Homo sapiens: one gene and its partners. The protein of the gene in region 2 interacts with the protein of the main gene of each other region in a pairwise test. Each region holds a gene or a part of one and is shown on either strand. Other genes may lie near its edges. The genes, in order: CYGB, DDI1, PTPN11, UBE2K, KLHL42, EYA2 and SDS.

Region 1 (3,500 bases), on a different chromosome or scaffold from region 2:
TCCGCCCCACGTGTGGCCGAGAGGATCATTCCTAACGCAACAGTCTGGCAGCTTTGGGAACCCCGTGCTCTCAGGACAAGGGTTGCCCTGGACCCAGCCCCTCCATCCTGCTGCCGGGCACTGCCCCTCCCTCTCGCAGCCACTCCGGGGATCACCTCTGTTGCTCCAGAGAGCCGTCGCAGAGCCTGCGAGCTGCAGATGGCCATGACGCGTGGGCGGTGGGGGCTCTGCAGCAGATGGGGGCGCATACCTTGAAGTACACCGGTTCCACCTTGTGCTTGAGGGCGTGGGCTTTCCCCACAAGGGCGAGCACAGAGGACACCTTGTCGGGGTCATGCAGGTTCTCCACGACAGTGTTGAGGGCCCCCATGACTCGGCAGGCGTGCTTCCGCAGCTGGGGGCTCCGCTCCATCTCCAGGGGATCCTCCATGTGCTTGAACTGGCTGAAGTACTGCTTGGCCGAGGGGAAGTTCACAAAGAACCTGGCAAGAGGAACAGGGGTGGTCGCTGAAGCTGGAGGCTGCCTCGGGCCCACCCTGAAGCTTCCAGGATAGTGGGGGCTGAAGAAGTGGACCGCAGTGCTCCCCACCCCCGCACCGTCACTGTTTTCACTACCATCAGTAGACCTCAGCATAGACCCTCCTCCCTCTGGCCAAGCCGGCTCACCCCTACCAAGTCTGGCCATGTCTATCTGCCAGGCTTGCTCAGGCTGGCGGCTTCATCTCCTAGGCCTCTGTCTTCCTCGCTTCTTGCTTCCTTCCCAAACTCTACACCCCCTTCAAGCCCTGCTCTAGTCATAGCCGAGAGGGTAAGAACTCAGGTTCTGGAATCATGAGTTGATCTGAAATTAAATCCTCTCTAGTTGGACTGAAATTGTTCTGACTCTCCCAAAATACTGCTTTCATGAAGTCATGCTTATGCTCAAAAACATTCAATGGCTCCCTATTGTCTGCCAAAGTGAAACTCCTTAACCGGGCATTCCAGACTTCTGAACTGTCCCCCACCCGCTTCTTCAAACTCATGTCCACATTCCCCACTATACTCGCATCATCCCTGTCCTGGCTCAGCGGCTTTACTTACAGTTGGGAAAATGTTCCTCGGGTGAGCCACATTCCTTTCTACTACCCTTTTCCTGTGTCAGACATGCCTTACCTGGAGCAGGCTGGCCCAGGGGAAATGCTTTGCCCCTGAGGCCATTGGCACTACTCAGGTGACCTTCCCTGCCCTCCTTCCAGCGTGTCAGACTGGATCCCAAGGCTCTCACGCACCCTCTGACCCCCTGCCCTAGCTGGGGCCCTGCAGTGTGAAAAATGACAATGGCTTTTTTTTTTTTTTTTTTTGAGATGGAGTCTCACTCTGTCATCCAGGCTGGAGTGTGGTGGTGCAATCTTGGCTCGCTGCAACCTCTGCCTCCTGGGTTCAAGTGATTCTCTTGCCTCAGCTTCCTGAGTAGCTGGGACTACAGGCATCCATCACCACGCCCGGCTAGCTAATTTTTTGTATTTTTAGTAGAGACAGGGTTTCACCATGTTGGCCAGGCTGGTCTCAAATTCCTGACCTCAGGCGATCCGCCTGCCTCAGCCTCCCAAAGTGCTGGGATTACAGGTGTGAGCCACCACGCCCGGCCGACAATGACTTTTTCACCTCCCCTCCCTGTCGGGGCTGGATGTCATGTGAGACATGGGCACCGACTCAATCAGAACTTAAATAACTTAAGTGAATCCCCAGAAAATGTATGGAGTGGCCTGGACCTGTTCTTCCAGGTTGTTCTGCCCCTTCGTGTGTCCCCTTTGCGATCAGAGAGAGCTGATAATTTGCGGAAGTAGCCCTTTGGCCAGGAGTCGAGTCTCAGATGTGAGGGCTGGAACAGATGCGGAGAGGGCATCTGGCCGGGTCATCCCTGCTGCTGGTGGAACTGCTATTGGCGGGGAAGTTTGCACAGTGACCAGGGCACAGTCTGTGTGGAGACTCAGGAGGGCCCCTCTCAGAGGCCAACTGTGACCTTGGGCAAACCGCTTCACAAGCTCCCTGTTTGCAGAAGGGCAAGAGGAGGGCCCCCGCTCACTGCTTCATGGATACACGGGTGAGGACACGTGAGGCGACGGGTCTGAAAATACATTGAATTTTCTGGAGAAGCACTGTAATGAGGGACAAATGTGAAAAACCCAATTTGGACTTAAACAAGCATCTCAGACTTTGGAGGTTTTACAATTGCAATAAAAAATAATGATATGGCCGGGCACGGTGGCTCACGCCTATAATCCTAGCACTTTACGAGGCCGAGGCGGGTGGATTGCTTGAGCTCAGGCATTTGAGACCAGCCTGGGCAATGTGGCAAACCCTGTCTCTACAAAATACAAAAAATTAGCCAGGTGTGGTGGCACACACCTTTGATTCCAGCTACTCAGGGGCCTAAAGTGGGAGGATCACTTGAACCCGGGAGGCCAAGGCTGCAGGGAGCCAAGATTGTGCCATTGCACTCCAGCCTGGGTGACAGAGTGAGACCCTGAATCCAAAGAAATAATGATAATAATAATAATAAAAGGTCAGGTGTGGTGGCTCATGCCTGTAGAACTTTGGGAGGCCAAGGCAGGAAGATCACTTGAGGCCAGGAGTTTGAGACCAGCCTGGGCAACATAGTGAGATCCTGTCTCCAGAAAAAAAGAAAAAAATTGGCTGGGTGTGGTGGTGCCCGTCTGTAGTCCTAGCTACTTGGGAGGCTGCAGCAGGAAGATCCGATCGCATCACGAGCCCAGGATTGGAGGCTGCCATGAGCCATGATGGCGCCACCGTACTCCAGCTTGGGTGACAGAGCAAGACCCTGACAAAATAATAACAATGATATATATATTTGCCTGCTGTGTTACAATGTTATTGTACCTTTTTTCTTTTTCTTTCTTTCTTCTTTCTTTCTTTCTTTCTCTCTCTCTTTCTCTTTCTCTCTCTCTCTCTCTCTCTCTCTCTCTCTTTCTTTCTTTCTTTCTTGAGACAGAATCTTACTCTGTTGCCCAGGCTGCAGTGCACTGGTGCAATCTTGGCTCACTGCAACCTCTGCCTCCTGGGTTCAAGGGATTCTCCTGTCTCAGCCTCACAAAGTTAGCTGGGATTACAGGTGCCCGCCACCACACCCGGCTAATTTTTGTGTTTTTAGTAGAGACGGGGTTTCGCCATGCTGGCCAGGCTGGTGTCGAACTCCTGACCTCCGGTGATCTGCCTGCCTCGGCCTCACAAAGTGCTGGGATTACAGGTGTGAGCCACGGTGCCCGGCCTGTTATTGTATTTAATTGCCACAGCTAAGCGGGTATTACCTCTATTTTACTGATGAGGAAACAACAGGGAACATTTATTGAGCACTTACTGTACGATCTCACGAATCCTTGCAATTCTCTCCTGAGGTAGGCACTGTTTTAATCCCCATCCTATGAATTAGGAATTGATGTCCAAGATTGCCCAACAAAGTAGATGGCAGTGCCAGGAAGGGGCCCAGGCAGGCCCGCTTT
Region 2 (4,229 bases):
TGGAGATTATAAGGGAGAGTTATTTTTTTCTGTATCCTTTGGGAATGCTTTATGTGGCTTTATATCTTGTCGGGAAAATAGAATAACTTAAAGGATATCCCAGATCCTTTAAGATAATGAGGTTTTAGTGCTTGAAAAGTGACCCCTCCCAGGAAAAAAAAAATTATTAGGTGAGGAATCTCAGTTGTAAAGTAGGTGAACTAATTTGTCTAAGTAATTAAGTGTAATCAAAACATACACATCTTGATTTTGAATCCGCTGTTTTAATACTAGTTTTGATAAATTATTGTCCTGAAACATTTCCCCTGCATCTGATGGCCTCAGGAAGCTGAAACTTTTCTCTCAGGTGCTTTAGCCATGGGTTGTAATTAAGTCTAGGATCTTCCATTACCCACTGTCAGTTGTAATAAACACTAACATTGTCAGAATGGATAATTCTGAATGAGGCCTTAGAGATCTTCTCATTCAAAAGTTTTCAAATGTTATTTTAACAGTGAAAACCTTTGTTCAAACAATACTGATGTAGCAGCAGCTTAATGTATAAAGCAGATTTTTACTTTGAAAAAGAGAGAGAGATGATCTAGTTGCAATGACTATTAGAGAACCTGGACCACTGCCTGTCCCCACCTCTCATTCCCACCACTGTACAACTTGACTCCCAAGAAGTACCATAATTTCTTTTTTAAAAAATCTAATTTATTGCCTTTGTTTTATAGCCAGAGTTTCTTTGAATGCAGGAGAAATAGAAAATTAATGTAGCATCCTTGGAGATAAATCCACTTTCTCAAATATGGCAAAAATAGTCTTTAGCTGTGGATTGCAGGGTGACTGCAGGGGATCCAGGGGAAGGGAAGGTGTAAATATGAGGAAATTGGTCTTTATGCTGCCCCAAACAGACATGTATAAGTATTAGTTAACATCATAGTGTAACTGACCTACCATTTCTAATACCCTTCCCAAAGAAAACAAAACCTGTGAAAATGGGCATATTTCTCTCAGTAGAAAGAATTATTAGTGCTGATGTGAAATAGTTTTATGTGGATGCCTTGTAAGGTCTGCAGCCATAGCATTTTTCCAGGGAATTCTGCAAAATAGCAATGATTTGGATAAGCCACCTGTAATCTGATAGGATAGTGTCTCTAAAGGAAGAAGCTGGTTTTCTTTTTCATGGATTATCTGGAAATCAGCTGGAGCCTCCAGAGCCTTCCCAGGATGCCTTTCAGTGATCTCTGGACAAGGGAAATGGAAGAGGGACCAAGACCAAGGAATCAGGATTGACGTTAGTTACCCATCTGAGAACGTAGTCCCAAGGCCAGGTTTAGTTGTTACTGATGTTTTTTAATGATTACATTGCCAGTAAGCTCTTAACTTATAATTGCCGGGGACCTGAGGCTCCCTCAAGGTGGTAACATATTTATAACGTGCTTTAATGCTCTTTTCGTCCTGAATCCATGACTGAATGTGTAATTTCCTTGTCCGAAGACTCATCTTGCCCACTTACCATCCTAGAGCATAAGGGCAACTCTCCCTCAGGAAGAAAATAAGTCTGCGTGCCAGTGGTGCCGATGACCAGCACATTTTTCTTCAAATCGATGGAACATTGATGTCTCCGGAGCATATCTAGGCCTAGAAGCATATCCATGGGTTGATCCTCAAGTATGGAGAAAGAGCACTGTAAGAAATCACCTTCAATTTGAATCTGAGCTAGATGAACACGGCCAATAATTCTCTGTGTGCCCACTCCTTTAGCAACCCCAGCCCACCGTCGGTCCACCAGCCTCATGATGTTACATCGCTCGGCACAAGCCTGGCTCATAATGGTCATCTGGGCGCCCGAGTCAACAAAAGCCTTCAAAGGATGCCCATTCACTTTGCAGTTAATGTAGAGCATCGTCACTTGTCCAAAACTCTCGGGGGCCTCTTCTATCGCTATATTCATGTTTTCTTCAATGTTTTGCTGCCGGATTTCCTCTTCTATTTTGGCCTGAGCTTCCCGATCCAGTGGGTCGGCTGTGTAGAGACGAAGCCTCTCTTGCTCTCTCAAGGCCTTTTCCCTTTGCTGCTCCATCAGCACCTGAGAAAAGGTCTCAAGGCTTCCGCTGAGCAGGGCTTCCGCCAAGGGAGGGTTGCGTTCCTTGAGCAGGGACAGATCGTGGGGGTTGGAGAGCAGCATGCTGCGGATCAGGGCGGGGCTGCCCAGACCTTGCAGGCCGGCCACCTTCTCTCCTGACGCCAAGCCCTGTGACCGCTGGGCAGCGGGTGTGCGCTGCTGCTGCTGTCCAGGGTGCTGTGGACGGGAGCTGGACGTCCCAGGCACCGCAATGCCACTGAAGTCTACACGAGGCTGGTTCGGGGCACGCCCTGGAGCCCGAGGTCCCACATTGTCCTTCTGCAGTAAAACCACGATATCGCCATCTTTGAGGCCGTAGGAGCCCAGGGAACAGTGGTCCTCGATGAGGAGTCGCTCCATGTGGATGATCTGGATCTCTTCGACGGGGACTCTGGACTCCGCTTCGCAGAGGACCTTGAAGTTTCGGAGCTCAAAGTCGGGGCTGACCTGGAGAGAGAAGGTGACCTCGGAGAGGTCCCTCCGCACGCAGTACACGGTGATCAGCATGGCGGGGGCCCGGGCGGGCCGGGCTAGCAGAGGGCATGGGCGGCTCACTGGCGGGCTGGGGCGGGCCTGCGTCGTTGGTGCCGCTGCTCCTCAGGACTTGGTAGGTAGGGACCGTCCGGGCTCATTCACCTCTCAGAGAGGCGCGGACACTCATCTGTCTGGGGGCTGTCTCCCAGCCTCAGTGCCTGCTGTGTGGCCAGGTGGAGCCTTGAGGTAGCACGTTGTGTTCCAAAGTCCATTTCTAAGTGTGCTGTTTGGAACCTAGAATGCCTACTCCCATGGATACACGATGGCTCAAAGCTGTCAGGTTTCAAGGCCAGCCCTTCAAAGCCTATTTAACACATGATATGAAAGAAATGATTTCAACACATTTTTTTTTGAGACAGGATCTTATCCTGTCACCCAGGCTGGAGTACAGTGGCATAATCACAGCTCACTGTAGCCTCGACCTCGTAGGCTCAAGCAGTCCTCCTCTCTCAGCCTCCTGAAAAGCTGGAACTACAGGCACAGTCTACCATGCCCGGCTAATTGTTGTATTTTTTTTTAATAGATTTGGGGTCTCACTGTGTTGTCCGGGCTGGCCTCCAACTCCTGGGCTCAAGCAATCCCCCACACTTCGGCCTCCCAAAGTGCTGGAATTACAGGTGTGAGCCACCATGCCTAGTTTTTCAACACTTTCTAAACAGCATATTATCATTTGTTTTGTTCATTTTAGAGTTGTATTCTTTGTACTTTTGTTTTTTCCCCAAACAGTAAGGATTTGTTTCTTACATGGCAAGTACCATTCTATGTGCATAGTAGGAAAGTCAGATTTGGAGCCTGCCCTTGAGGAGCTCACATTTCTGGAAAGGGATAGACAGGTGAATGGGTAATCACAATACTAAAGGCAAAATCTTTTACAAAGACATGTTCAGGGTACTGCCTTTAGTATCACCAACAGAACAGAGGATATTTTCCTAAGGAGGAGACAAGCTGGATGTTGAAGGATGAGCATCTTCCAGGTGCAAAGTGGTCTCACTCCAAAGGAAAGCAGTTTCATGTTACAAAAGCAGGAATTTATGGCAAGGGCTGTTATTTCTAGAGAAAGATGAGACATTTTGTGCAATAAAAAAATTGTACATGACTTTGAATACCAGGATATGAAGCTGGAAAAAAATTAGTTGAGCCAATTGATGAAGTCATATGTGAATCTACGGAGTTTAAATATTAAATATTATCAATTAGCAAGAATTCCTCCTCCAAAAAAAAAAAAAAAAAAAAAGAAAAAGAAGTAAGGAAGGAAAGGAAAGGGAAAAGATTTGAAGCAGGTGTTTGTGATTTTTTTTTTTAAATTGACTTAAGGAAGAGGCTTCTTGCAACACATGGAGGACATAATGTGGCAGGAGGGCCAGTCAGGAGGCTTTTCCAGTGGTTCAAAGAGGGAGCTGTTGCTAGAGTGTGGAAAGTCAGGAGGCCCAAAGCCAAAGCAGTAGAGAATAAACATGTTTCTTGAGTAAAATGGACAGAGTGTGCATACCCCTTGGAGGTGGGGAGTGTAAAAAAGTGGAATGTGTGGATAACACAGAGGGTCTCTAAAATGGGATATAGGGTAGATGGGCCATTGCCTTGAAGG
Region 3 (3,500 bases), on a different chromosome or scaffold from region 2:
AGCACTGCGGGCAGAAGGACAAAAAGCAGGGACAACAGAATCATTCATGGGGGTTTCAGACTCAAAACCAAGCCATTAATATCAACAGAAACAATGTCTACTCTTTGGAGCTATTTATAAAATTGTCTATTTATGTTTGAAAATATGTTGGCAAAAAGCATAGGGCTTTGGAGTCAGCCCAAACCTGCTCTTGGAGTTCAGCTTCTCCAGTACAACGTGCCTGAGGTAAGTCCCTTAACCTCTCTGACCCTTAATTTCTGCATCTGTGAAATGGGGACAACAGCACATACCATACAGAGTGCTGGTTGGACAGAATGAAACAGGAATCATATACAAAAAAATACATCAAAATTACTGAAAGAGGGCCGGGCGCAGTGGCTCTCACCTATAATACCAGCACTTTGGGAGGCCGAGGCAGGAGGATCACTTGGGGCCAGGAGTTCCAGACCAGCCTGGCCAACATAGCAAAACCTCGTCTCTACTAAAAACACAAAAATTAGCCAGGCATGTTGTCACGTACCAGTAATCCCAGCTACTCGGGAGGCTGAGACATGAGAATTGCTTGAACCCAGAAAGCAGAGGTTGCAGTGAGCTAAGATCGCTCAATTGCACTCTAGCCTGGGTGACAGAGTGAGACTCTGTCTCAAAAAATAATAATAATAAAGTTATTGAAATAGAAGAAGTAAATAATTTTAAAAATTAAAAACAAAACAAAACAAAAAACATTGTGCTCAGAGGCTGGCTCAATAAATGGTAGCTTCTTTAACAACTGGACAAATAAACACTTTCACATATATCTACTTGCCCAAGAAATGAATGAGATTTAGGAAACCCAATATTCCCCAGTATAATCATGAAGCCCAAACTGGAGAATCAGCAGCCCACAGACTCATTACAGAGGTCACAGCACAGCTTCCATCAAAGGCCTTGGTGGAAAAGCAGCTGGAATCTTGTGAAGCAAACAAATATAGTGTTAGGGGAGAAATATATTTATGGTAGAAGAGAACAGAATGGGCCGGGCATGGTAGCTCATACCTGTAATCCCAGCACTTTGGAAGGACAAGGCAGGTGGATCACCTGAGGTCAAGGGTTCGAGACCAGCCTGGCCAACATGACAAAACCTTGTCTCTATTAAAATACAAAAATTAGCCGGGCGTAGTGTCAGATGCCTGTAATCCCAGCTACTTGGGAGGCTGAGGCAGGAGAATGGCCTGAACCCGGGAGGCGGAGGTTGCAGTGAGCCAAGATGGCACCACTGCACTCTAGCCTGGGCAACAAAACAAGACTCTGTCTCAAAAACGAAAAAAAAAAAAGAGAGAGAGAGAGAGAGAACAGAATCACAATCAAAGAGATGAATCATAGAAGAGTAGAAGAAAAGAAGGAAAAAGAGAACCAAGCAAAAATGACTTAAGGGATCCTCAAGAGTCAGGCCTATTTCCACCACACCCCCACCACCTCAATACCTACAAAGCAGTCAACAGCTACAAAGCAAACATCATGAAGAATAAGGAGAAACTGCAGAGCCAGGATGAAGTTGTTTAATGCACAACTTCTGGTGGACTCAGAGATAATGCTGACTTAGTCTTTGCTGTTTTAACTGAGCATGTTGCCATGGCCATGGCCAATGGCAGTGCTGTAGGGTCTAGGAGAAATATGCCTTGGGATCAAAATGTCCCTCAATGCAGTTGCTCTATGCCTCAAACAGATATTAAATTCTTCCTACAGTTAAAGAGCTAGGAGTGGGTAGGTAAAAGCAAGCCCTGGGCGCTAGGAGACAGGGACAGGCTGTGGCCTAGAGGGGCAGCAGGAGCTGTCACCTGCAGTGCACCACGACCGGCCCTGCATCCATGATGCTCTCCTGCTTATGGTGCACCTCCTCCAGGAAGTCCAGCACGCCCCCAGGGTCGCTGGGCACGCCGTGGTCCGGCCAGGTCCGAAAGTGGTATTGCCAGACCGTTCTCTCCGTATTCCCCTGGAGTAGAGCCAAGAAAAACCAGAAAAGAATTAAATAAATCAAGAGGTTGAGGAATCACCCGGTTCTAAGCTTTCCTAAATCCAATGGAGAGGAAGAGAATCTCCCCAGGTTCCACTGAAAGGTCCTCTTCGTGAGGTTCCCAGAACTCGTCTCCTTTTGGGCAATCCTGGAGGCAACTCTTTGCCTCTGTCATAAGAACCAAGACGTCTGGCATGGCAATTTGTTCTTTCAGGTAACTATACCCTGAATCATCTCTCTGAATTACCAGCGACAGGTAACATCCCTATTCCCCTGCATCCCTGTGGCACTCAGCTCTGGAGGCAACTGAAACCTCTAGGGATCCAGGTCTCTCCTCCCAGCAGAAGAGGAAGCAGATGGGGAAACAGGCATTCACTTAAGACATTCATTCCTCTTTGTTATTTTTTTGATACTCAACCTTCCCCACCATATAAACACAGACTATAGTATCATTCTTTTTTTTTTTTTTTTCCAAGACAGAGTCTTACTCTGTTGCCCAGGCTGGAGTGCAGTGGCGTGATCTTGGCTCACTGCAACCTCTGCCTCCCGGGTTCAAGCCATTCTCCTGCCTCAGCCTCCCAAGTAGCTGGGATTACAGGCACACATCACCATGCCTGGCTAATTTTTGTATTTTTAGTAGCGATGGGGTTTCTTTCGCCATATTGGCCAGGCTGGTTGCAAACTCCTGACCTCAGGTGATCTGCCTGCCTCGACCTCCCAAAGTGCTGGGATTACAGGCGTGAGCCACCCAGCCTGGCCAGTATTGTTCTATTTTAAACTTATATTTAATGCAAAGCAGATAAGAAAACAGGCTTTGCTATCAGATGACTAGATTTAGGCTCCAATTCCAGGCACTCACACTCACGTGGCCCTTGGGTATCTCTAAACCTCAATTTCTTCATTTTGCAAAATGCAAATAATAATCTCTTTCTCTCTATCATAATGCAATTTTAAGGACTCAGTGAGCTCGCTGAAATACTCAGCCTCTGCCCAGCAAATAGGAAGAGACTCAGCACATTATGGCTATTTTGAGGATAATGATAATTAATAAAGATCAACAATGGCACCAAGGCTACAGAAAACCAAAAAGTATCATGTTTCTGGGTCTATCCAGATGACGTAATTGTAGCAGCACCATTCATTCCTACATCTTCTTCCTATATATGTAGAGACAATCTAAGCTAAGTGACTTTTTTTTTTGAGACAGAGTCTCACTCTGTCATCCAGGCTGGTGCACAGTGACCTGATCACAGCTCACTGCAACCTACGCCTCCCCGATTCAAGCAATTCTTGGGCCTCAGACTCGACTCCCGAGTAGCTGGGACTACAGGCATGTACCACATCCAGCTAATTTTAGTAGAGAAGGAGTTTCGCCATGTTGGCCAGGCTGGTCTTGTACTCCTGACCTCAAGTAATCCACCCACTTCAGCCTCCCAAAGTGCAGGGATTACAGGCATGAGCCACTTTGCCCAGCCTTAAGTGACATTTTTAAAAGGGATGTAAAAGG
Region 4 (3,500 bases), on a different chromosome or scaffold from region 2:
CTCTTATTTTCCTTTTTTTTTTTTTTTTTTTTTTTTTTGAGACAGGGTCTTGCTCTATCACCAAGGCTGGAGTGCAGTGGCATGACTATCGCTCACTGCAGCCTCGACCTCCTGGGCCCAAGGGATTCTCTCACCTCAGCCTTCAGAGTAGCTGGAATTACAGGCACTCACTACCATGTCCAGCTAATTTTTGTAGAGATGGGTTTCGCCATGTTGCCCAGGCTGCGAATTTCTCTTATTTTCTAAACCACTTTTGTCAGCCAAGAATTTGCAATAATTTAAAATCAATCAATATATCAAAATCAACATGCCCTTATGTACTTACCCTATCAAAGCCCATAGCACATAGGTTTTCTATTTTTTTGGTGTATTCTGGACTAGAAACTGGTGCTCCAGCATACACATGTGCCCAAAGTCGAGCTGTCTGTTTGAACATTTCGGGATTTTGTTTGTACTATATGGGGGGAAAAATTGATTGACATGACATTACAGTTATAATATTTGATATATTTCAGCTCTTAATCGCCTACAATCCTACTTTTCCAAATAAAACAAATCTACATTTAAAATGTGATTCACTTTGCATTATAGACAACCTATGTCACTCGAGAAAAGACCACTTAACCTGAAGCTTCGACTCACAATTTGTGTTGACAATAATAAAGACAAGTAACATTAATCTACTTTAATCTCCAAATTCAACAAATATAACTAGCAAGACTAAAATTAGGTTAAGTGAGGTATTAAGAGATGTTCCAAACACTGGAAAGCAGCAAACATTATACAACTGAACACAGATTACTAGCTTATAAAAATATGTGGACATTAGAATAATTTTTTACGATGTAACCAGCTTTTGTATTACCCACAGCCCAGGCTAGAATACAACTAGATTCTTCTGTTTTCTTACAGCTGCATTAGTGTACAGTGATTTATGGAAACCCCACATGCAAAGTCCTAACTTATTACATAACTTGAGATGATTATAAACTCACAATAGAGTAATTTTATTAAAAGACTTCCCATATGCATTGGAAAGAGGTAAATTTATCAAATACTTTGGAACCACCATTACTTAGTAAAGCAAAGTATAAATTACTAACTATTCAATTCACTTTAATATTTCTTTTAAAAGTAATTTATATATTTAAATCTATTACATATTAAAACGATAAATCTAGTTTCTACCACTTATTCATCACAAGGAAATAAGTCAAATTATTGAACTATTTTAGGAGCTAAAAGAAACCCTTGAGTCCAACCTCAACGTGTAAGGCTTAGAGCTCAATAGGAAAGCAAAGCTGGAACACAAGCCATGCTTATAACAACAAATATGAACAAATAGCACATATATAAAACATGGAAAACCCTAATTGGAAGTACTCTGAGACAAATAACAGAATATATTGACAAGGATATATACATATATACATAAACAGATCTTCAAGGGAAAAGAAGAAAGATAATATATAAATTAAAATCTTATAGGTTAAAGAAGTTTGCCAAGAGGAAGTTTCCTCAGGCAGAGGAAATATGGTAGATTGGATACAATATGTAAAAATGAATGCAATGCTTGAAAAAGCATGAGTTTGAAGAAAACAAGAATTTAGGAAATAAAGCAGAGTTCAGATCATGGAAAAACTCTGCAAACTAAAGAATCTGGACTCAAGTAGATGACAGTAGAGCTACGAACAAGTTTTTGTTAGTGAAGTAAGATTTGCACTTTATAAAGCTACCTGATAGCAATGTAGAAGATGGAGAAAGGAAGAAAGAGGTTGAGAAAAGGAGATCTATCAGAGCAGTTGAAAAGAAACAATTTTTTAAAAGTGACCTATGGCAATCAGAGTAATTATGTAAATATAGTGACAGAATGATACAGGGAATGGTTATCAACAGGAGCAAAGGAGACACAGAGAAAAACTCCAAAGGCTGTGACTTGGGTGGTTAACCATATGAATGTTCCTTGGATACCTGAATGTAACACTGCCAAAACTGAATGCAGTATCATAAATCCTACAAACCTATCATTCTATGATACCATCACCTACCAATTTAGTTAAACACCAGGCTCTCGTGCTTAGGAGAGAGGGCAAGCCTAAACATTTTATCAATGTACAGGTACTAACATCAGTACAGATATGATCATCCAAGTGTGAGTGTGTACAGAAAGTAAAGGTAACAAGGTCAGAACTGAGGAACTACATTTAAGAAAGACGAGTAAGAAGGGAAATAATTGTGGGAACTAACAAAGAACAGCTATGAAGTGAGGAAGAAAAGAGGGTAATATCTTAGAAGTCAAGAGAAGAAAAACTTTCTAAGTTTAAAAAAAAAAATGTCCATTATATTCCAATGGCTTAGAGTAGGTGTTGGCAAATTTGTTTTTTGAGACAGGGTCCCGTTCTGTCACCCAGGCTGGAGTGCAATGGTGTGATCTCAGCTCACTGCAACCTCTGCCACCCAGGTTCAAGCGATTCTCCCACTTCAGCCTCTCAGGTAGCTGGGACTACAGGTGTGTGCCACCACGCCAGGCTAGTTTTGTGTTTTTAGTACAGACAGGATTTCACCACGTTGGTCAGGCTGGTCTGGAACTCCTGACCTCAAGTGATCCACCACCCACCTCAGCCTCCCAGAGTGCTGGGATTACATGCATGAGCCAACACACCTGGCCAGCAAACTGTTTCTTAACAGGTCAGATACTAATAACTTAGGTCCAGTCTCCGTTGTAACTAATAAACTCAGCCACTGTAGCTAGAAAGCGAAATGAAAAATATTTATTCTGTTCAACAAATTACAAGGTCATTGGAAACTGTGCCATGTCACATAAGTCCCATGATAGGAGGTGATTAAAATTATTAGCAGGGAGGGATCATCACTGAAAGGAAGGATAAAAAGATGGACACATACACGAGCATTAATCATAGAATCTAGATGGTAGGAATATGGGTGTTCACTATGTAATTCTTTTGACTTTATGTGTTTGAAAATACTCATGTTAGGAAAACAGCATCTATATCCAATTAAACTAGGATGTTAAAAGTCTATTTTCACTATTACACCTGACAAAATAATCCTACCACAAGAAAGAAAACCATTTCAAAATTTAGTTTCAATAGAGTATGCTCATGTGTTAATGTGCAAACCACTGAAGTGGCTAGAGACTCATACATAATATAAGAAAGTCTTTCAAAAGCGGCCATCTTACCTGATTTGCTACTACAGCATCCTGTGGATCATCTGGCTCTGCAGCTGCCAATAGTGCTTGCAATGACAATAATACCGTGCGGAGAGTCATTGCAGCTGCCCTAAAATGCAAAACATGAAAATATCCCAATTAAGAGGGCTCTGCAGGCAAAAGCAAAGTATTTTCTTAATAAAAATTAAAAAATTGTAGAGCTAAAAGTTACTTAGATCTTTATCTTAATTATATAGTTAAGTCATAGACATTTATAATTATGTATCTGCCTATCATATATTTTCTTCCTTACTTTACAATTTGCCTA
Region 5 (3,500 bases), on a different chromosome or scaffold from region 2:
TAGTATTTTATCTCTGTGTAGTAGTTTCTGATAGACTATTTGATTTAATCATCTCTACCACCTTGTGATGGCTGTTACCCCATTTTACAGATGAGGAAGTGAGGTGGTTGGACCAGGGTCAGATAGCTGGTTATCAGCAGAGCTGGGACTAGAAGCGAGGTCTTCTGATTTGTGCTCAGGTTTTTTTCTGTTGCATCATGCTGCTGCTCATCCTCTTGTAAACTTGTGACTGTTGCACACCTCACAGCAGACTGACCCAACACTCCCAAGAGTTTATCCTTCCTGCCTTTTGTGTGCTATATCGAAACAAATTAATTTTGTGTTACTATTCAGTTCAAAAATCATAAGACTTATTTAGTGTCTGAAGCTGATAAGCAGCATTTAATTATTTTCTGAATATAGAGCTGGAAACCATTGTCCATCTCTTTTTCAAGTTATTATTTTTATGAAAGATGAGCATTTGTCAATAGAAGTATTTGTTGAATTAACATATGTAAAGACCCTAAGAATGCTGGATCAAAATATTTTGAGGCTGGTTGTGGTGTCTTATAACTATAACCCTAGCACTTTGGGAGGCTGAAGCAAGAGGATCACTTGAGGCCAGGAGTTCAAGATCATCTTGGACAACATAGTGAGATGCCATCTCCACAAAAAACTGTTTATAAAAAATTAGCTGAGTATAGCTGAATATGATGATACATACCTGTAGTCCAAGTTACTCGAGAGGCTGAGGCAGGAGACTCTCTTGAGCCCAGGAGTTCAAGGCTGCAGTAAGCTATGACTGTGCCACTGCAGTCTAGCCTGGGTGACAGAGCAAGACCCTGTTTCATAAATAAATTAGTAAATAAATAAATACAAACTGTGAATTTGTTCAGTGCTGACCTCTCCCCATCTTACATGTTGTGAAGCAGTATGTTAGATGCCCTTGGAGGCGGGAGGCAGGACCAGTGTCTTGCTCAGGTATACTCGTTGTGCAAGGATCTCCTGACCTACCCTTTAGCAGTCACTCCTCGCACCTGCCTGTCTCGACAGCACCAGTGTGTCCCTAAGATGAAGCCATACTACTCAGTAGGAAGAATGAAATACCCATTCTGAGAGGTGAAAGACAATGGGGTGATGTGGGTGCCTTCCCCTCTTACCCTTGTGCCTGCCCCTGAAAGAAAGTGTGGAGTTTAGTGTATACACATTGTCTTTGGTTGCTGGACTAAGGCTGAACAAGATTAATAACTTGTTGTATTGAACTGCTTATCTTCGATAGCTAGTGTTTGGACAGTGTGCCATTCCCGTGGAATCTTGGGGACAGGAGTGAGATTCGAGAAGCCATCCTTTCCTCCTCTGTCCTCAGGCGGAATGGCCCCCAACTGGGAGAGCGAATTTTCTTCAGATGTTCAGGAGAGTCTAGTAGTTCATGCCATTGTTACACTTTTCATTGATCAGAAGAACTAACTCTGTGGGCCTTTGTGTCTCTCTTTCAGGTCTAACTTCAAACTTGTGGCTGTTAATTCAAAACTCTATGCCATCGGAGGGCAGGCCGTTTCTAACGTTGAGTGTTACAACCCCGAGCAGGATGCGTGGAATTTTGTGGCGCCCTTACCCAATCCTCTGGCTGAGTTCTCTGCCTGTGAGTGTAAGGGAAAAATTTATGTCATTGGAGGATACACTACCAGAGGTAAGTGAAGGGACCAGGTAGGTGGTCTGCCCATGTGTAGGCGTCAGCAGTCTGGGAAGGGCAAGAGGGTGTCAGAGGAAGCCCCGACATATCCGAGTGTCATGTTATGCTTTAATAGTGTACACTTACACATCTGGAAGGAAGAGAGTTCCATATGGCAGGGATGATTGGGACAGGAGGGATCTTTTGATAACTTTGTGTGAGCATGAAAATCGAATGGGGAAGGGAGAGCTGTGAAAAAAAAATGTTATCTCTTTTTTTTTGCTTCTGGAAACCCAGCTTTTTGGTCAGCCGTCTTGTGATTTGGCTGGGCCTGGTTTGTGGGGGTCGCTCTCTGAGGTTGGGTAGCTCTTTGGAGAAGATTATCTGGGAACTCCCATCCTTATCCCAAACATACACCAAACCTGCCCCCATCCACCATTATGGAATTTAGTACCAGAGCATCCTTGCAGATTAGTTCTCATTTTCTCTCTTTGTGAGCACACACACATCAGGTAGAGGTTCCAGAAACCCAGCTTTAGGACACTGTTCACATATCACAGGAGGAGCAAGGACATGAATACAAGAGAGCTCTTTCCTGACCAGCAGTGGGAGGTGGTTGTACTATCTATTTATTTGTTTATTTATTTATTTATTTTTTGAGATGGAGTCTCCTTCTGTCACCCAGGCTGGAGTGCAGTGGCGTGATCTCGGCTCACTGCAATCTCTGCCTCCTGGGTTCAAGCAGTCCTCCTGCCTCAGCCCCCCAAGTAGCTGGGATTACAGGCTGCACCACCATGCCCCGCTAATTTTTGTATTTTTAGTAGAGATGGGGTTTCACCATGTTGGCCAGGCTGGTCTGTAACTCCTGACCTCAGGTGATCCACCTGCCTTAGCCTCCCAAGGTGCTGGGATTACAGGTGTGAGCCACCGTGCCCGGCCTGGTTCCACTATTTATTAAAATGTATATATGTGTTTTTCACTTTTTTGGTAGGCATTTTATTGTTAATAATTTGGAAATTAAAAAAATTTCTCCACAAGCTTATTTTTTGTGGAGACAAGGTCTCCCTGTGTTGCCTAGGCTGGTCTTGAATTCCTGGGCTAAGTGATTGTTCTGCCTTGGCCTCTCAAAGTGCTGGGATTACAGGCATAAGTCACCATGCCCTGCTTGCCAGCAAGTTTTATACTGCTCTTTTTGGTAGGGAATTGTCTCAGGTTACAGTGATAGAGAACAATGTAGTTGTTGGTGGGATACAGTGGCTCATGACTGTAATCCAGCACTTTGGGAGGCTGAGGCAGGAGGATTGCTTGAGGCTGAGAGTTGAGGACAGGCCTGGGCAACATAGCAAGACACCTTCTCTAAAAATGAAAAAAATTAGCTGGATGTGGTGTCATGTACCTGTAGTCCCAGTTGCTTGGGAGGCTGAGGCAGGAGGATCACTTGAGCCTGGGTGTTCAAGATAGGCCTGGTCAACACAGCAAGACCCCTTCTCTAAAAATGAAAATAAAAAAATTAGCTGGTTGTGGTGGCATGTACCTGTAGTCCCAGTTACTTGGGAGGCTGAGACAGGAGGATTGCTTGAGCCAGGGGTTTGAGGCTGCAGTGAGCTATGACTGCTCCCCTGCACCCCAGGCTGGGTGACAGAGTGAGACCCAGTCTCTAAAATAAAAAAAAAAAAAAGAAAAGAAAAAATAAAACTGTGGTTGTGGGAAGACAGACAATGGGGGACAGTCAAGCAGAGGGGTGCCTTTCCTTCCCTCTACTCTCCAAAGCAGATGTCTCCAAGTTACCTCTTAGCCAAGGAAATCTATTTCTGCATTTGGTCTGTGTGACTCTATGGAGCCCAGGACT
Region 6 (3,500 bases), on a different chromosome or scaffold from region 2:
GGTTAAGGTATTCATGGTTTCCAAAACAATTTTTTGTTCCCACTATGTTTTCTAGCATTTAAGATGCAAGGTATAAGTACTCACCTTTAAATCTCTATTGATTGGCAGCTTCCTGAAATACAGAGTCAGAGAGCGTGTCCACCACGTCCTGAGTTTGGTACCAACCCAGGTGCTGATGGAAATTCCAAGTAGGGAGAAAACGTCCTCTTCGGAGAGGCAGGGTGTCAGCGCAAAGAGGTTATTTTCTTTTGTGGGTGTGTATTATTTGCACATATCAGGACTTTTGTTTCAGGGTGTTCTAGAAACATTGATCTCTCCAGCAAAGTTCTGCGTGTCCTTCTTGGTTGGGAAGGGAGCGGAGAGGAAGGAGCCCCGAGGAGAATCGTGCACCTTTGGCCTTTTGTGTGACTCCTAGAGTAGAGGGAAGCCTCCGCTGCTCGGAAGGTGTCACGTGGTATAACAAGTTGTGACTTGTGCCTGTGTTGTCAACAGAGTTTTAGCCCCGTCCAGACATGAAAAAGAATGGAGCCCCGAAGATGATTCACCTCCGGTCTGCGATGGGCCCAAGCTGTCCAGTGCTCTCCTCTTGCTAAACAGACCATACTCCCTGGAGGAGTTAATGGCTGGGGTGTGGAGAGAAGACCGGTAGGAGGGGAGAAAGAATGCCTTAAACTCAGCAAATGTCTAAAACGCTCAAAATGTCTCAGCATTGCTCAGGCACCCACAAGAAAGACAAACTGATAAAAGGACATAGAATCAGGCTTTTTTTGAGGGGGAAGCACAGAGAGGTTGGGGGTTTGCTAGAGGTTTGATCTAGAGTGGACAATTTTTCTAACACCTTGGGACCCGATTTTGGAAATGTCTTCCTGTAGCCTTGCTGTCATTCCTTTGTGCTTATTTTTAGTGAATTAGTTTTGGGGATTTTCTTTTGTTTTTAAGAAAACACAGAGTTGTAAGACTTGTTTGGGAATCACAGGTTTTATTGAACACTTATTATTTATTGAATATTTATTATGTCCCAGGCATTGTGCTGTGGAAATACTTTATATGTTTTGTCTCCAAATGGCAGTAGATGGAACGTGCTGTTATTATTATTTCTATTTTACAGATGTGGAAACTGAGTCTGGAGAGTAACTTGTCCAGGATCACATGGCTTATGCCAGAGCCAGGATTAAACCCAGTTTTGATTCCTAACCACTAGGATGTCCAGCCTGCTCCCGTGGTATAACAAGAACTTCCCTTTCTCCATCTGTCTGCCCTGGAGAGCTAGATTTTAAAGTCCTTTTCCACTTGCATTGCCTTATGGATATTTATCGATGGTTAGGTACAAAAATCAGGTTGAGAAAGTAAGAGACGCCAGCAGATTCTCACAAGATTTTGAATCTGCCCTTGTAGAAATGAATGAATGTTTCAAGCTGGACCTATGGAAATGGTCGTAGCATCACTGCAGTTAGTGGCCTAAGTCATTGCTTACAGCTGCTCTTGCCCTATAACCGCAGGGTTGAACAGCCGTACTACAAAGACCATACGGCCTGCAAAGACTATCTGGCCCTTTACAGAAAAAGTTTGCTGACCTCTAAGCTATTGCAATATGACAAGACAATCCTTGTAGACCAGAAATAACATGCACTTGGGACATTTCGTATACCATTTCAATGATTTATTATTTATCAGGTGCCTCCAATGTGCTTGACACATTGCACAGTGATAGGGGAAAATTACAAGTGACTTCATTCCTTCATCCATTTACTTAACAACACTTATTTAGCTGTGTTCTGGGCTGTTTACTGGAGAGCCAGAGGTGAGAAGGACCAAATCCAGCATCTCCGGTAGGAGGATCCCAATGTGTTCTCACCAGTATCCCATGGCCTCTTCTTTCCTGAGGGTGCAGAGGGTGTTGACATGACTTTTTGAGCTTTCTAATGTTTGAGCAGCAGAATGGAAGCAACACCTCAGTCTGTAGACCCTCACCCACAGAAGCTATGCCTGGTTCAGTAAGAGCAGTGCCTCGGCTTCTGCACCTGAAACCGCACTAGGCATATAGGACTTACCAGTGCCCCAGGCTTACTCGGCCGACAGCAACTCTCTGCTTCCCTCAATGCGTTGTGCAGAATGAGGAGGAATGTAGAGAATCAGACTTTCCAAACCTCAGCCTGGGTACTGACTTTCAGCCTCGAGATTAAGAGCTTGAGTCCAGGAGCCAGGCTGCTCAGGTTACACTTCCCCTCAGTGTTAACCTACTCCTGCGTTTAACTTGGGGGTAAGTTACCAGACTTTTCGGTGCCTCAGTTTCTTCGTCTGTAAAGCAGGGTGAATAATAATGCACCTTCCTCAGAAAGCTATCGTGGAGATTGAGTTAATAAACATGAAGTGTTTGGAACTACGGCTGGCAAGTGGTATGAATTATATCAGTGTCAGCTACAGTTATTATTATTATTTATGAATTTGACCTGAAGCAAATTACTTAGACTCTTTGGGATGATAATAATAATAGTAACAACAATAATAAAATAACTTTTCATAGTGCCATTGTGAGAATATAAATGAGGCGATACATGGAAAACACTTAGCTTTGCTACACTGCCTGCCTCCATTCAATGTTCAATGAGCTAGCTATTGAGATTATGGGGAACAGTGCACTGGATCAGTGCGGTGTCTATAAGCTATTGATCAGTTGAGTCATTTTAGGTATCGAGAGAATGTTGGGCAGTGGTCGATAGCACAGGCCCTGGACTCAGACAGATCTGGCCTGAGCCTGAGTCAGTCCATCACTCACGGACTGCCATCTCCAGCAGGGGTCTGACCCTCTCAACGTCCCAGACATCGGAGACAGCAGTTAACTGTTCCTGGGGTGGTTGGGAGGCTTAAAAGAGTGGCTGGCACACCGAGCACAGAGCAGGGTGTTTGGCACATAGTAAGCACTCAATAAATGGTAGCTTGTATTATTACCACCCCCATTTCTTGCTGTACCCCCACCCCCAAGAAAGCACTGAACATTAGTAAATTTTAATTTGAAAATAAAAGAACACATTTTAAAACTGCCAAACAGATTTAAAATAATATTCATTACACAAAATTAAAATATTCTATTAAAGCCAGACTTTGGGCTCAGACCAAATTTTTATAACCCAAGCTTAAAGGCCAGGGAGTCCCCCAGCCACAATGGGGACATTGTGATTGAACTTGAGACTTCAACGCTGCTATTGAGCAGTCTTTGAAATGCATGTTTCCCCTAAAATAAAAGGGAAGTAATGGGAAGGAAAAAAATGAGGTTCTTGCTCCCCTCAACAAGCCTTAATGAATTGGAAAAGAAAAACAAAATATTTCTCATTTTTCTCCTGCTACTCGATCCTGCCAAAGACGCACGGCCCCTCCCAACCCTGGCTTTGAATGGTGCCCACTCAGAACCTTCCAGATCTGATATGCTATATGAGCAAACCTAATCTAAGTTGTAACATTGTAGTCTTCACCAGGTTTTACAGATGGCGGATTGTATCACT
Region 7 (4,238 bases), on a different chromosome or scaffold from region 2:
TCGTCTACAGATCGAGACTCTGTCTCAAACAAACAAACAAACAAACAAAAACAACCTGGCAGCTGGCTCTTCTGACATGCAGTTCCAAGTATCTTGGCTTAAATGGACGATCCCAGGACCCAGCAAAATGCCTGACTCATAGTAGATGTTCAATAAATATTTATTTAAAAAAAAACAAAATAACCTAACTTTTGGGAAGCCCAATATTCAGTTAGGAAAAGCTCTTTCATAATTATTAATTTTGTCATAATTATTATAGCAGTGACTAATCACAGCTTTTAAATTTTATTCATTCATTCATTCATTCATTCATTCATTCATTCCAGTAGAGATGGGGTTTTGCTATGTTGGCCAGGCTGGTCTCCAACTCCTGGCCTCAAGCGTTCTGCCCACCTCAGCCTCCCAAACTGCTGGGATTACAGGCATGAGCCACAGCACCTGGCTTGCTGTTGTTTTAAGTCACATTTTGGGGTAGTTTGGTACACAGCAACAGGAAGGGGAATATTAACATAATTTGCCCAAAGTCACGCTGTGAGTGAGGCAGGGAGGCAGGATTTGAACTCGGGCAGCTGGCTCCAGGGCTCAGGCTCTCTCTGCGACCCATGGGTGTGGCTCAGGCTCCTGCTTCTGGATGGGCTCTGGGGGATGAAGCAGCTGGGGTGGCCCGGGGTCTAGCCACAGCCACGTCCACCCACCCAGCCTTCCCATCTCCCCTGCCTTCTGCTGAGAGTCTCAGGGAGGATTTGATTCTCCTCAACTTGGGCCGGGCCAGAAGAGATCAGCTGACGATGGCCAAGGGGCTCTCTGGTTCCCCCTCCCTCCACCATCCCAGAAGGCCAGGCAAGGGTGGCTAGCCAGAGACCCATCTCCAATGCCACCTTGTCCAGCCCCCTGTCCTGGGCACTCCTAGCTTGGACATCCATCCCCCGCTCCCAGAATGAGCCAGACATCCCTTGGTCAGAGGGAGAATGAGGGGTGGGGATTCCAACTGCCCCGCCAGACTTAGCATCCCCTAAATAGGTCACCCCTTGTCTATCTGAATTAACTGACATTCGGGGCCTGGGAGGGGAACTTGAACAGACACCCTCTCTCCGCTGGATCTCTCGAATAAAAATCAGAGACTGGGGCAAACTTCAAAACAGGACATCCCCAAATCGGCATGAACTTTCAGCTCCTGGAGGTTAATCCCCAAACAATGGGATCCCGGTTTTTATTTAGTTATTTTTAGAGAACCTCCCTCTGTCACCCAGGCTGGAGTGCAGCGGCATGATCTCGGCTCACTGCAACCTCCGCCTTCTGGGTTCAAGCGATTTTCCTGCCTCAGCCTCCCAAGTAGCTGGGATCACAGACGTGCACCACCACGCCCGAATAATTTTTGCATTTTTAGTGGAGACAAGGTTTCACCATATTGGGCAGGCTGGTCTCGAACTCCTGACCTCAAGTCATCTGCCTGCCTTGGCCTCCCAAAGTGCTGGGATTACAGGCGTGAGCCACCACACCGACTGACTTGACATTAAAGGCCGGTGTAGGTCACCAAGGCCTGGCCTCAGGGACAATCGGGGTGGGAGTCAGAGGAGCCGGCCACGAAGACCCTTTTCAGGTGGGTTTGGGGCGCCTCTCTCGCCGTTTGTCCCAGGCGGTGCCATGGGATGCCTTCAGGTAAAAGGACAGGGCTCCCTCTGCCGCGGCTTTCCGTGAAGTGAGCATCCATTAACTGCATCCAGCCTGCCCCAAGGATCCCTGCCCCAAGGATCGCAAGACTTCAGAAGAGGTTGTGCCCGGGGAGGAGGAGGGAGGGAGCCCTGAAGCCGCTGTCTGCCCACTCCGGCAGTCGGAAGCCACCTTCCCTTTCACTTGGTTCACAGTAAGTGCTCAGTCGATATGAACTATTATGAAATCTGGGCTGGACACCTTAAGTGCAGGTCATCCTTTCACCGTCACAACCACCTGAGGAGGAAGGCGCTATGCTCATCCCCATTCTACAGATGTGGAAGCTGAGGCACAGAACTGGACACAAACTCAGTGTTTAGGCCCAAATGGCTGTTTTTTAAAAATTTGAGACAAGGTCTTGCTGTGTCACCCAGGCTGGAGTGCAGGGGCGCAATAATTGCTCACTGCAGACTCGACCTCTTGGGCTCCAGCGATCCTCCCAACTCAGCCTTCCCAGTAGCTGGGACTACAGGTGTGCACCACCACACTATACTAATTAAATTCTTTTTTTAGGTCAGGAGTTCGAGACCAGCCTGGCCAACATGGTGAAACCCCATCTCTACTAAAAATACAAAAATTAGCCGGGCGTGGTGGCACACGCCTGTAGTCCAAGCTACTCGGGAGGCTGAGGCAGGAGAATCGCTTGAACCCAGGAGGTGGAGGTTGCAGTGAGCCCAGATTGTGCCATTGCACTTCAGCCTGGGTGACAGAGTGAGACCTCTGTCTTAAAAAAAAAAAATTTTTTTTGTAGAGATTGGGGGGGGTCTCACTCTGTTGCCCAGCTCAGTCTTGAACTTGTGGCCTCAAGCAACCCTCCCACCTCAGCCTTCCAAAGTGTTGGGATTACAGGCATCAGCCACCATGCCCAGCCTTGACAGACTCTTTCTATGTCTCCCTCTTCCCCTGGGAAACCACAGGCTAGCCCGGGACACTCCAGTCCTGAGGTGGGACTGAGGATGGGGCCACTTACCCGGCAAAGGTGATGGGTCTGAGCAGGAGTCAGAGCCAAGCCAGCGAGGGAGGGATCAACTGAGTAGATAGCCCACGAAGAGAGGGGGCTGAGGACGGGTGGACAGTCTTCTGAATGGTCCCAGGGGCTACTTGGTCCTGGGCTTTATTCCTCTGGCACCTCTGGGCAGCCAATGGGGCCCTGGGGCTGGCTACACCCCCCCCTCCCTCCTGCCAGGACCCACCCCCCTGGCTTGAGGCCACTGAGGCTGTCAGAAGGGAGGTGGAATCTGGCCAAGCTTTCTTCTTTGGCAGCTTCCTCCTGCCTTTCCCACAACCCACTCCTCCTCCCTCTTTCCACTTCCCCTTTCTGTCCTCAGTTTCGTGAAAGGAAAATAAAAAATTGGGACCCCCAACTCACTATGCCAAAAGAAAAAGAATTAAGCTAAAAGCTGAGTCATGTAAGAAACTGCCTTTCCTTTAGTTCCTAAGCAGATAGCTTCAGATGAAAGGTTAAATATTGGCTCCGCATTTTGGGAGGCCGAGGCGGGTGGATCACCTGAGGTCAGGAATTCGAAACCAGCCTGGCCAACATGGTGAAATCCCGTCTCTACTAAAAATACAAAAATCAGCCGGGTGTGGTGGCACGTGCCTGTAATCCTAGCTACTCAGGAGGCTGAGGCACAAGAATTGCTTGAACCTGGGAGGCAGAGGTTACAGTGAGACTAGATCTCGCCACTGCACTCCAGCCTTCACAACAGAAAGAAAAAAAAAAGTTAAATATCTCCACAGGTCGCTACTCTATGTTCACCTTATCTTATGTAAAGTGCCGATTTATTGAGATCAAGACAAATACATAATTGGCTACTTCCCTATCTGCCCCTCTTCTCTTACAAACTGTGGATTTGGTAATGTGGCCATAGCCTCCTTCTTTCCCCTCCAGCTTGCTTTTCTCCTTTAAATACTGACACCTAAAGTCATCTCTGGAGAAAAGCACAGACCTGTCTCCCAGGTGCATTCTTAACCCTGGCGAAATAAATTTCTAAATGGATTGAGTCCTGTCTCAATCTTTTTGATTCTTTTTGATTTACAGATTGGAGACTCATGAAAGGGACCCTGGGTGGAGGTGGCCCTGACCTTTGACAAGTCTCCTACTGGTGCTTGGTGGGTCTTGCTCTGTCACCCTGGCTGGAGTGCAATGGCATGATCTTGGCTCACTGCAACCTCCATCTCCTGGGTTCAAGCGATGCTCCTGTTTCAACCCCCCAAATAACTGGGAGTATAGGCATGTGCCACCACACTCAGCTAATTTTTTGTATTTTTAGTAGAGATGGGGTTTCACCATGTTAGCCAGGCTGGTCTTGAAGTCCTGACCTCAAGTGATCCACCCGCCTCAGTCTCCTAGAGTGCTGGGATTACAGGCGTGAGCCACCATGCCGGCCTTGAGCGATCTTGATTGCCCTCCAAAATAGGACAGTTTGCTGAGGCCTGGGAGCTCCCCACCTCCAGAGAACTCCTGATCTCCCACAATTGGTTGATATCTAAGCTTGATTTCCCTGAACAGCTCCTTTTCTGCGTTT

Evidence for each region.
Region 1: the proteins of DDI1 (region 2) and CYGB interact in binary tests that used the Homo sapiens proteins (3 or more experiments, as listed by UniProt).
Region 3: the proteins of DDI1 (region 2) and PTPN11 interact in a two-hybrid assay, tested with the Homo sapiens proteins (one large-scale study listed by IntAct).
Region 4: the proteins of DDI1 (region 2) and UBE2K interact in binary tests that used the Homo sapiens proteins (3 or more experiments, as listed by UniProt).
Region 5: the proteins of DDI1 (region 2) and KLHL42 interact in binary tests that used the Homo sapiens proteins (3 or more experiments, as listed by UniProt).
Region 6: the proteins of DDI1 (region 2) and EYA2 interact in a two-hybrid assay, tested with the Homo sapiens proteins (one large-scale study listed by IntAct).
Region 7: the proteins of DDI1 (region 2) and SDS interact in binary tests that used the Homo sapiens proteins (3 or more experiments, as listed by UniProt).

The regions. Positions count from the first base shown.
Region 1 is NC_000017.11:76,531,210-76,534,709, forward strand, and holds part of CYGB (cytoglobin), read right to left. Parts: intron 483-3,500; coding exon 251-482; intron 1-250. UniProt on the Homo sapiens protein: Probable multifunctional globin with a hexacoordinated heme iron required for the catalysis of various reactions depending on redox condition of the cell as well as oxygen availability.
Region 2 is NC_000011.10:104,035,211-104,039,439, reverse strand, and holds DDI1 (protein DDI1 homolog 1), read right to left. Parts: upstream 2,801-4,229; 5' UTR 2,618-2,800; coding exon 1,427-2,617; 3' UTR 244-1,426; downstream 1-243. UniProt on the Homo sapiens protein: Probable aspartic protease. Seems to act as a proteasomal shuttle which links the proteasome and replication fork proteins like RTF2. Required, with DDI2, for cellular survival following replication stress.
Region 3 is NC_000012.12:112,484,947-112,488,446, reverse strand, and holds part of PTPN11 (tyrosine-protein phosphatase non-receptor type 11), read right to left. Parts: intron 1,985-3,500; coding exon of another isoform or gene 1,973-1,984; coding exon 1,818-1,972; coding exon of another isoform or gene 1,814-1,817; exon of another isoform or gene 1,524-1,813; intron 5-1,523; coding exon 1-4. UniProt on the Homo sapiens protein: Acts downstream of various receptor and cytoplasmic protein tyrosine kinases to participate in the signal transduction from the cell surface to the nucleus. Positively regulates MAPK signal transduction pathway. Dephosphorylates GAB1, ARHGAP35 and EGFR.
Region 4 is NC_000004.12:39,774,636-39,778,135, reverse strand, and holds part of UBE2K (ubiquitin-conjugating enzyme E2 K), read right to left. Parts: intron 3,303-3,500; coding exon 3,203-3,302; intron 455-3,202; coding exon 326-454; intron 1-325. UniProt on the Homo sapiens protein: Accepts ubiquitin from the E1 complex and catalyzes its covalent attachment to other proteins. In vitro, in the presence or in the absence of BRCA1-BARD1 E3 ubiquitin-protein ligase complex, catalyzes the synthesis of 'Lys-48'-linked polyubiquitin chains.
Region 5 is NC_000012.12:27,790,233-27,793,732, forward strand, and holds part of KLHL42 (kelch-like protein 42), read left to right. Parts: intron 1-1,475; coding exon 1,476-1,669; intron 1,670-3,500. UniProt on the Homo sapiens protein: Substrate-specific adapter of a BCR (BTB-CUL3-RBX1) E3 ubiquitin-protein ligase complex required for mitotic progression and cytokinesis. The BCR(KLHL42) E3 ubiquitin ligase complex mediates the ubiquitination and subsequent degradation of KATNA1.
Region 6 is NC_000020.11:46,901,343-46,904,842, forward strand, and holds part of EYA2 (protein phosphatase EYA2), read left to right. Parts: intron 1-84; exon of another isoform or gene 85-406; intron 407-3,500. UniProt on the Homo sapiens protein: Functions both as protein phosphatase and as transcriptional coactivator for SIX1, and probably also for SIX2, SIX4 and SIX5.
Region 7 is NC_000012.12:113,401,088-113,405,325, forward strand, and holds the start of SDS (L-serine dehydratase/L-threonine deaminase), read right to left. Parts: upstream 2,801-4,238; 5' UTR 2,681-2,800; intron 1-2,680. UniProt on the Homo sapiens protein: Catalyzes the pyridoxal-phosphate-dependent dehydrative deamination of L-threonine and L-serine to ammonia and alpha-ketobutyrate and pyruvate, respectively.